Homo sapiens: one gene and its partner. The protein of the gene in region 2 purifies or fractionates together with the protein of the main gene of each other region. This does not show direct contact. Each region holds a gene or a part of one and is shown on either strand. Other genes may lie near its edges.

Region 1 (3,536 bases), on a different chromosome or scaffold from region 2:
CTCCTGCCTCAGCCTCCCCGAGTAGCTGGGACTACAGGTGCCCGCCACCGCGTCCGGCTAATTTTTTGCATTTTTAGTAGAGACAGGGTTTCACCGTGTTACCCAGGATGGTCTCGATCTCCTGACCTCGTGATCCACCCGCCTCGGCCTCCCAAAGTGCTGGAATTACAGGCGTGAGCCACCGCGCCCGGCCACTCAGAGTAGTTTCTTTGATTTTTGCTGAGCTCTTGTATAGAAAACCAACCTATGTTGCAATTGATAAGCGAGAATAATTTTAGTATGAATGCTGGTTGATATTTCTGTTTACATTAACGAGGAAGAGGAAGTGAGAAAACACATGTTGGATCTTCACTAGTTCATCAGTGATACGGGCAACTTCTTTGTTGAACTGGGTAAAACTTTTCAGATACTGCAGGAATATTTTCCTAAACTATTTGTGCTACTCGTTACAGCTACAAATATGCAACACTTTTAATATGCATCACTAACATTTTCTCCATCACTTTCTTAGGTCTAGCGTAGACAACAAAAATAAATAAATCAAGCCCTGGTGTGTAGCATTTGCTGGTTTTCCTGAGGTAAACATTCTACTATCATTGATTTCAAGCTACCAGCAAGTCACTGAATGTAGGGTTGGCAAGAGATGAGCAGAAACACACCATTGTGTAGTATTTCCAGGATACAGATAAAATAGACATAAATAATCCTGAGTAATATTCAGGAAGTAATTTTGAGTGCTTTATTACCTTTATTTTTAATATATTCAGTTGTAGGTTTATATAGTTTAATTTTTTTATTAGTGTCTGTTTAACAATCGGTTCAATTTAATATTCAGCTGAGTGGTTTAAATATGAGATACCACTGTGATTATGCCTCCTCATTCTTGTCTTTCCTCCTCAGACTTTTTATAAGCCCATGGCCCTAAACTCTCAAGAAGGAAATGAGTGTCCTTAGAATGTGACCTTCCTCTCCAACTTGTCCCACACCTGCTAAGACACAGAGTGGAAGGAGCTGAAAAGCCAGAGACCCACTTAAGATCCAGAAGCATAAGCAGCAGTTGCAGAGAGGCACACAGACTAGCCACCCATCTCTCAAGAAGAGTTGTTCCAAGTACAGGTTTGGAATCTTCAGTCTGAAAACGGGGTCTTTTGATCTCTCCCCACTTTGGTGCAGTCTGCTCCGATTAGTGCCGAGATTGAGACTGGAACAAACCATGGTAGCTGTCAATGGCACAAGGACCCCATCTGCTCCAGACTTGACTGACCCTGGCTCTTGTACTCCCTGCCACCCACTCCTACACCCTGTCTTCCCTCCTTCTCCAATGACAAGAGATATTCATTGAAACAACCTTGCTCCCATTTCTCTATCTGCAGCAGGGCTGAATTGAAATTTCTTATGTCCAAATGCCCATTCTCTGAATAAAAAAATATTTTGAAACCAGACTTTCTAATCAACAGATACTAATACGCTATACAGTGAATAGCATGTCTTTATTCTATTTACAGTATATTTGTTATAAATATAATACATTTTTGAAAAGCTTATTTTTAATTAACTTGAGATTTATATTTTAAACAGATCAACTCAATAGTTAACGTTATATAATAAAGAATATGGTAATTTTAATGACAAAAATCGTATTGTGAAATAGCGCACTCTATACTGAGATGAATGAGGGGAAAAAAGTCAAAACTCCTTTCAAAACTATATTCAAAGCATCAGAAAAAATTTTTTTTTCTTTTTACAAAGTTATGTATAAGTCATAGGGACCACCAAATACTGAAATATGAAGACTCTATGACCAAAGTTCAAAACTGATTTTAAGGAACTGTGTGAAGCAAGACAGGAAAATTTGTATTTAACACTCTATAGAACTTCACAGTAAAGCTGGAATTTAGAGACTAATGGCTTAACAGGAGTACTGCCAACAAGGCCTTTCCTTTCTCAGAATCATCTCCTAATATTCGTATACCATTGACAAGTTGTAACAGCAGACTTAGACTTTGTGTTTTCTTAAGATGGGGCTTAATAAGGTGCACAAATATGCTGATATCCTGTATTATGAGCATGTAAATTATTCTCAGGGTTTAAAGAAATACAGAAAAAGAATGTTAAGTATTCTCAGTCCAACGTGCTTTGCATCATCAACAAAATGACAAGTCAAAGTATTTTGCAGGGATCAGATATCAATCAACCTCCATAACAAGTTAGGTATATCAAATACTGCTGTAAAACCCATCCAGCAAAAACTGATTATTGTGGATTTCAGTACAAATTTCCAAGTTGTCACACATTACTGATGATGATCAGGGCAGGCATGGAATTCTGCTGACTTGTTTCAAACACTGTAACTTGGTCCGATAACTTGGCAAATACCCTAGGAGTTCCAAGGTTATAAACACCTGTATGAACAAAGCATGCTTTCAGCTGCAGACTGTGAATCTCCTGGCTTTTAAGTTGAAGTTTATACTGTGTTTGTCCAAGCCATGTGAATGATCCATGGATTTCCAGTGCTTCTGGACTAAGGGAGGAGGAAAATGTAAGTTGCAGGATTTTTTTCTTTTTAATTTTTTTCCCAAAGTCACATTAACATATCCCTTTCAGCTGGGCGCGGTGGCTCACGCCTGTAATCCCAGCACTTTGGGAGGCTGAGGCAGGTGGATCACCTGAGATCAGGAGTTCAAGACCAGCCTACCAACATAATGAAGCCCCGTCTCTACTAAAAATACAAAATTAGCCAGGTATGGTGGTGCACGCCTGTAATCCCAGCTACTCAGGAGGCTGAGGCAGGAGAGTCACTTGAACCTGGGAGGCGGAGGTTGCAGTGAGCTGAGATTGCACCACTGCACTCCAGCCCATGAGAGAGCAAGACTCCATCTCAAGAAGAAAACAAACATCCCTTTCATCTAACAATTCTATTTCTAAAAATTATTTTATGAAGCCAACTGTTTATTAATAATAGCAACATCATTACTATAACAGCTAACATTTATTATTTAATAGTTTCTATTCTCTAGGCACAATGCTAAAAGTGGATTATTTCATTTAATGCCCTAAGAGTTAGTATATGTTGGAACTTGATTTCAAACCTAAACTTTTAACTCCTTAGTTAGCCATATATAAGTGTCTGTACATGAATGCTTTTAATATTGAAACTGTTTATAATATTGAAAAATGGAAAACCCAGTACCCAATAAAGTATTAATAAATTTATGATACACAAAATCACATATATAGGTGTGTGTTTGGATTTCAGAGAACTGTCCCAGATCCTGTTTGGGGTGTTATACAAAAATATTAAGTATACGCTTTATAGTATTTTTCCAAAAATTCAAAAATTTCTGAATTCCCAAAAGCATTTGGCTCTAGGAGTATCTGATGTGGGACTGTGGATCTGGATTTTTTTTTGTTGTTAAGTACTATTTTATAATCAAGAAAAAAAAATCTTTAATATTTAAAGCCTCTGTAACACATCTGTAAGCCTTCTATATTACCAAACAAAAAACCAGGACAAGCTTGAGTAACTTTCTTATCCA
Region 2 (3,820 bases):
CACACCCTGCTAATTCTTGTATTTTTTTTGTAGAGGCAGAGATTCACCATGATGCCTAGGCTGGTCTCAAACTCCTGAGCTCAAGCGATCTGCCCGCCACAGCCTTCCAAAGTGCTGGGATTACAGGCGTGAGTCACCACGCCTGGCAGCAACACAGATTTTAAGTACAAGGAAGGAAATGAAGGCAGGAACTGGTGGGGAATCTGGGGCCTCTATTTCCCTTCTGTGGTTCATCATTTTAACCAATAACCCAGCGAACTGACCCGCTCGGCAACTCCAACCATGAGGGTCACTACCTGATTCTCATAGGCCTCCTCTCGGCGGCGGATGGGGACATCGCTGGCACACACATACACGTAGACCTGGTTGTCACAGGCAATGCCCCAGCAGCACTGCGTGGTGGCGCTGACGCGCTTGAACTCCAGCTGGGAGTCCTTGCACATTTCCCAGTACTGGCCTGCTGTGGACAGCGTGTACACTCTCCCGAAGAGGTCCACCGCCCACAGCACTGAGTTGGGCATGGCAGCGGCTGGAGGTAACCTGCGGCAGGAGGACGAGGGCCAGCGTTCAGGCTCCCAGCCCAGGGGACATCAGAGTCATGTGAAACCTGGGAGACTTCTACTGTGACTATTTATTCTTTTTCTCTTTTTTTTTTTTTTTAGATGGAGTCTCACTCTGTCACCCAGGCTGGAGTGCAGTGGCGCAATCTTGGCTCACTGCAACCTCCACCTCCAGGGTTCAAGCAATTCTCCTGCCTCAGCCTCCCAAGTAGCTGGGATTATAGGCACCTGCCACCATACCCAGCTAGTTTTTGTATTTTTAGTAGAGACGGGGTTTCGCCACATTGGCCAGGCTGGTATCGATCTCCTGACCTTGTGATCTGCCTGCCTCAGCCTCCCAAAGTGCTGGGATTACAGGCGTGAGCCACCGCGCGTGGCCAACTGCTTATTCTTTCTTTTTTTGTTTATTTTTTTGAGACGGAGTCTCGCTCTGTTGCCCAGGCTGGAGTGCAATGGCACGATCTTGGGATCTTGGCTCACTGCAACCTCCACCTCCCAGGTTTTCTCCTGCCTCAGCCTCCCCAGTAGTTGGGACTACAGGTGCACGCCACCACGCCTGGCTAATTTTTGTATTTTTAGTAGAGACATGATTTCACCATGTTGGACAGGCTGGTCTCGAACTCCTGACCTCAGGTGATCCACCTGCCTCTGCCTCCCGAAGTGTTGGGATTAGAGGCATGAGCCACCACGCCCGGTCTCTTTTTTGTTTTTGAAAGAATTTAAAAATAGATCACTTGAGGCCAGGAGTTCAAGACCAGCCTGGTCAACATGGTGAAACCTCATCTCTACTAAAAATACAAAAATTAGCCAGGCACAGTAGTGTGTGCCTGTAGTCGCAGCTACTCAGGTGGCTGAGGCAGGATAATGGCTTGAACCCGGGAGATGGAGGTTGCAGTGAGCAGACACAGTGCCACTGCACTGCAGCCTAGGTGACAGAGGGAGACCCTGTCTCAAAAAAAAAGAATTTAAAAAGTAGAGACAGGGTCTTGCTCGGTCACCCAGGCTGGAGTGCAGTGGTTTGATTACAACTCGTTGCGGCCTCGAACTCCTGGGCTCAAGTGATCCTCCTACCTCAGCCTCCTGGGACAACAACAGACATGCACCACCATACCCAGCTAATTAAAAATTTTTTTTTTGTAGAGACAGAGTCTCACTATGTTGCCCAAGCTGGTCTCAAACTCCTAGTCTCAAGCAATCCTCCCATCTCGGCCTCCCAAACTGCTAGGATTACAGCCTTGAGCCACCATGCCTGGCCAGATCTTTGTTTTCAAAAGAATCAATGAAAGCTTACAGGTTTAGTTGAATCTCGAAAGATATAACTACCCCACTACTTCCCCAGGGGTCCTTCCCCAGAGTGGGCAGGTCTCCCCGCCATGTTGGCCTCTATCTGGGCATAATGAGGGCACGTTGAGAGCCAACGTGACCATGTGAATTCAGGGACGTAGGGGTCTTTTCTTCATGCGCCCTCAGTGACTCCTTCCTCCTCTTCCCCCGGCTCTCTTCTTCTGCCATTCTCTACTCCTTTCTTTTTCTTTTCTTTTCTTTTTTATTTTTTAAGAGAGTATCTTGCTCTGTTGTCCAGACTGGAGTACAGTGGTGCAATCATAGCTCACTGCAGCCTTGAACTCCTGAACTCAAGCCATCCTCCTGCCTCAGCCTCCTGAGTGGCTGGGACTACAGGCATGTGCCACCGTACCTGGCTAATTTTTAAAATTTTTTTTGTAGAGATGGGGTCTCGCTATGTTGCCCAGGCTGGTCTTGAACTCCTGGCCTCAAGCGATCCTCCCACCTTGGCCTCCCGAAGCGCTGGGATTATAGACGTGAGCCACTGCACCCAGCCCTTTCTCTCTTCTTTCTCTGTGCTTTGTAGGCATAGCCAAGGCTATTGCTAAGCTCTGCCACTGACCACCCCTGGCCCCACCTCCAGGGCCCATAGTGCTGTTGCACCCAGGGGTGTCCTTCCTGGAGTCCTGGCTCCTGATAGGAACAGTCTTTCCACCGTGGCAGGGCCACATGGCCACACACAAGGCAGCCAAACACAGAGCTACTGGATGAAGCCACCAGGGCCATCACCTGAGAAGCTCTGCCCGACAGGGCGGCTCCTAGATCCAACCCAGGACACTGGCCCGGGGCCTGAAGAGAGGAAAGAGCCTACAGATGAAGACATGGCCAGTCTGACTTAAAAACCGGAGCAAAAGGAGACAGGCAGAGTTTATTTAGGTGCCTGGAGGCTGGGCCCAGTGCTCCCGCAGCATACCAGAGCCATGCGGGTGCTCCAGACGGCCGGGTGACTGTGACGATGGCACGAGATAGAAGCATGTCTGAAAAGAGGAGCAGCTGCCACCGGCAAAAAAAAAAAAAAAAAAAAAAAAAAAGCCAGGTGTGGTGGCTCACACCTGTAAACCCAGCACTTTGGGAGGCCAAGGCGGATGGATCACCTGATGCCAGGAGTTTGAGACCAGCCTGGCCAGCATGGTGAGACTCCATCTTTACTGAAAAAAAAAGGTGAAAATTAGCCAGGCACAGTGGCGCGTGCCTGTAATCTCAGTTACTCAGGAGACTGAGGCAGGAGAATCGCTGGAACCAGGAGGTGGAGGTTGCAGAGAGCCGAGATTGCACCACTGCACTCCAGCCTGGATGACAGAGTGCGACTCCGTCTCAAAAAAAAACAAAACAAAAAACTAGGCTCTTTGGGGACAAGGTGCATCTTTTTTTTTTTTTTTTGACAGAGTCTTCCTCTACTCCCAGGCTGGAGTGCAGTGGCATAATCACAGCTCACTGAAACTTCCACCTTCTGGGTTCAAGTGATTCTCCTGCCTCAGCCTCCCAAGTAGCTGGGATTACAGACCTGCACCACCACATCTGGCCCATTTTTGTATTTTTAGTAGAGATGGGGTTTTGCCACTTTGGCCAGGCTGGTCTCGAACTCCTGGCCTCAGGTGATCCGTCCCAAAGTGCTACGATTACAGGCAGGAGCCCCTGGCCCTGGCTGGGACAAGGTATATCTTACAAACACCAAGAAGACAGATTGCAGGTTGAGAAGGAAGTGAGTGAGAGGGTGAGGAACAGGAAGACAGGAAGCAGAACAAAAGCTCAGCTCTGGGAAACTCCCATAACAGGAAGTGGGGGAAAAGAATAGGAGGGAGACTGCCCAGCAGAATGGAGGAAGCCCGGGGAGTAAGAGCCCCTCCCAGAGCAGCTGACCCCCTCCATCCCAGGACACCAAGGCCCGTCAAACATATGAGAAAATCAGAACACCA

Evidence for each region.
Region 1: the proteins of TECPR1 (region 2) and TRAPPC8 purify together in Homo sapiens (affinity purification with mass spectrometry; one large-scale study listed by BioGRID and IntAct). This does not show direct contact.

The regions. Positions count from the first base shown.
Region 1 is NC_000018.10:31,828,469-31,832,004, forward strand, and holds the end of TRAPPC8 (trafficking protein particle complex subunit 8), read right to left. Parts: intron 2,522-3,536; coding exon 2,287-2,521; 3' UTR 729-2,286; downstream 1-728. UniProt on the Homo sapiens protein: Plays a role in endoplasmic reticulum to Golgi apparatus trafficking at a very early stage. Maintains together with TBC1D14 the cycling pool of ATG9 required for initiation of autophagy. Involved in collagen secretion.
Region 2 is NC_000007.14:98,245,626-98,249,445, forward strand, and holds part of TECPR1 (tectonin beta-propeller repeat-containing protein 1), read right to left. Parts: intron 541-3,820; 5' UTR 522-540; coding exon 297-521; intron 1-296. UniProt on the Homo sapiens protein: Tethering factor involved in autophagy.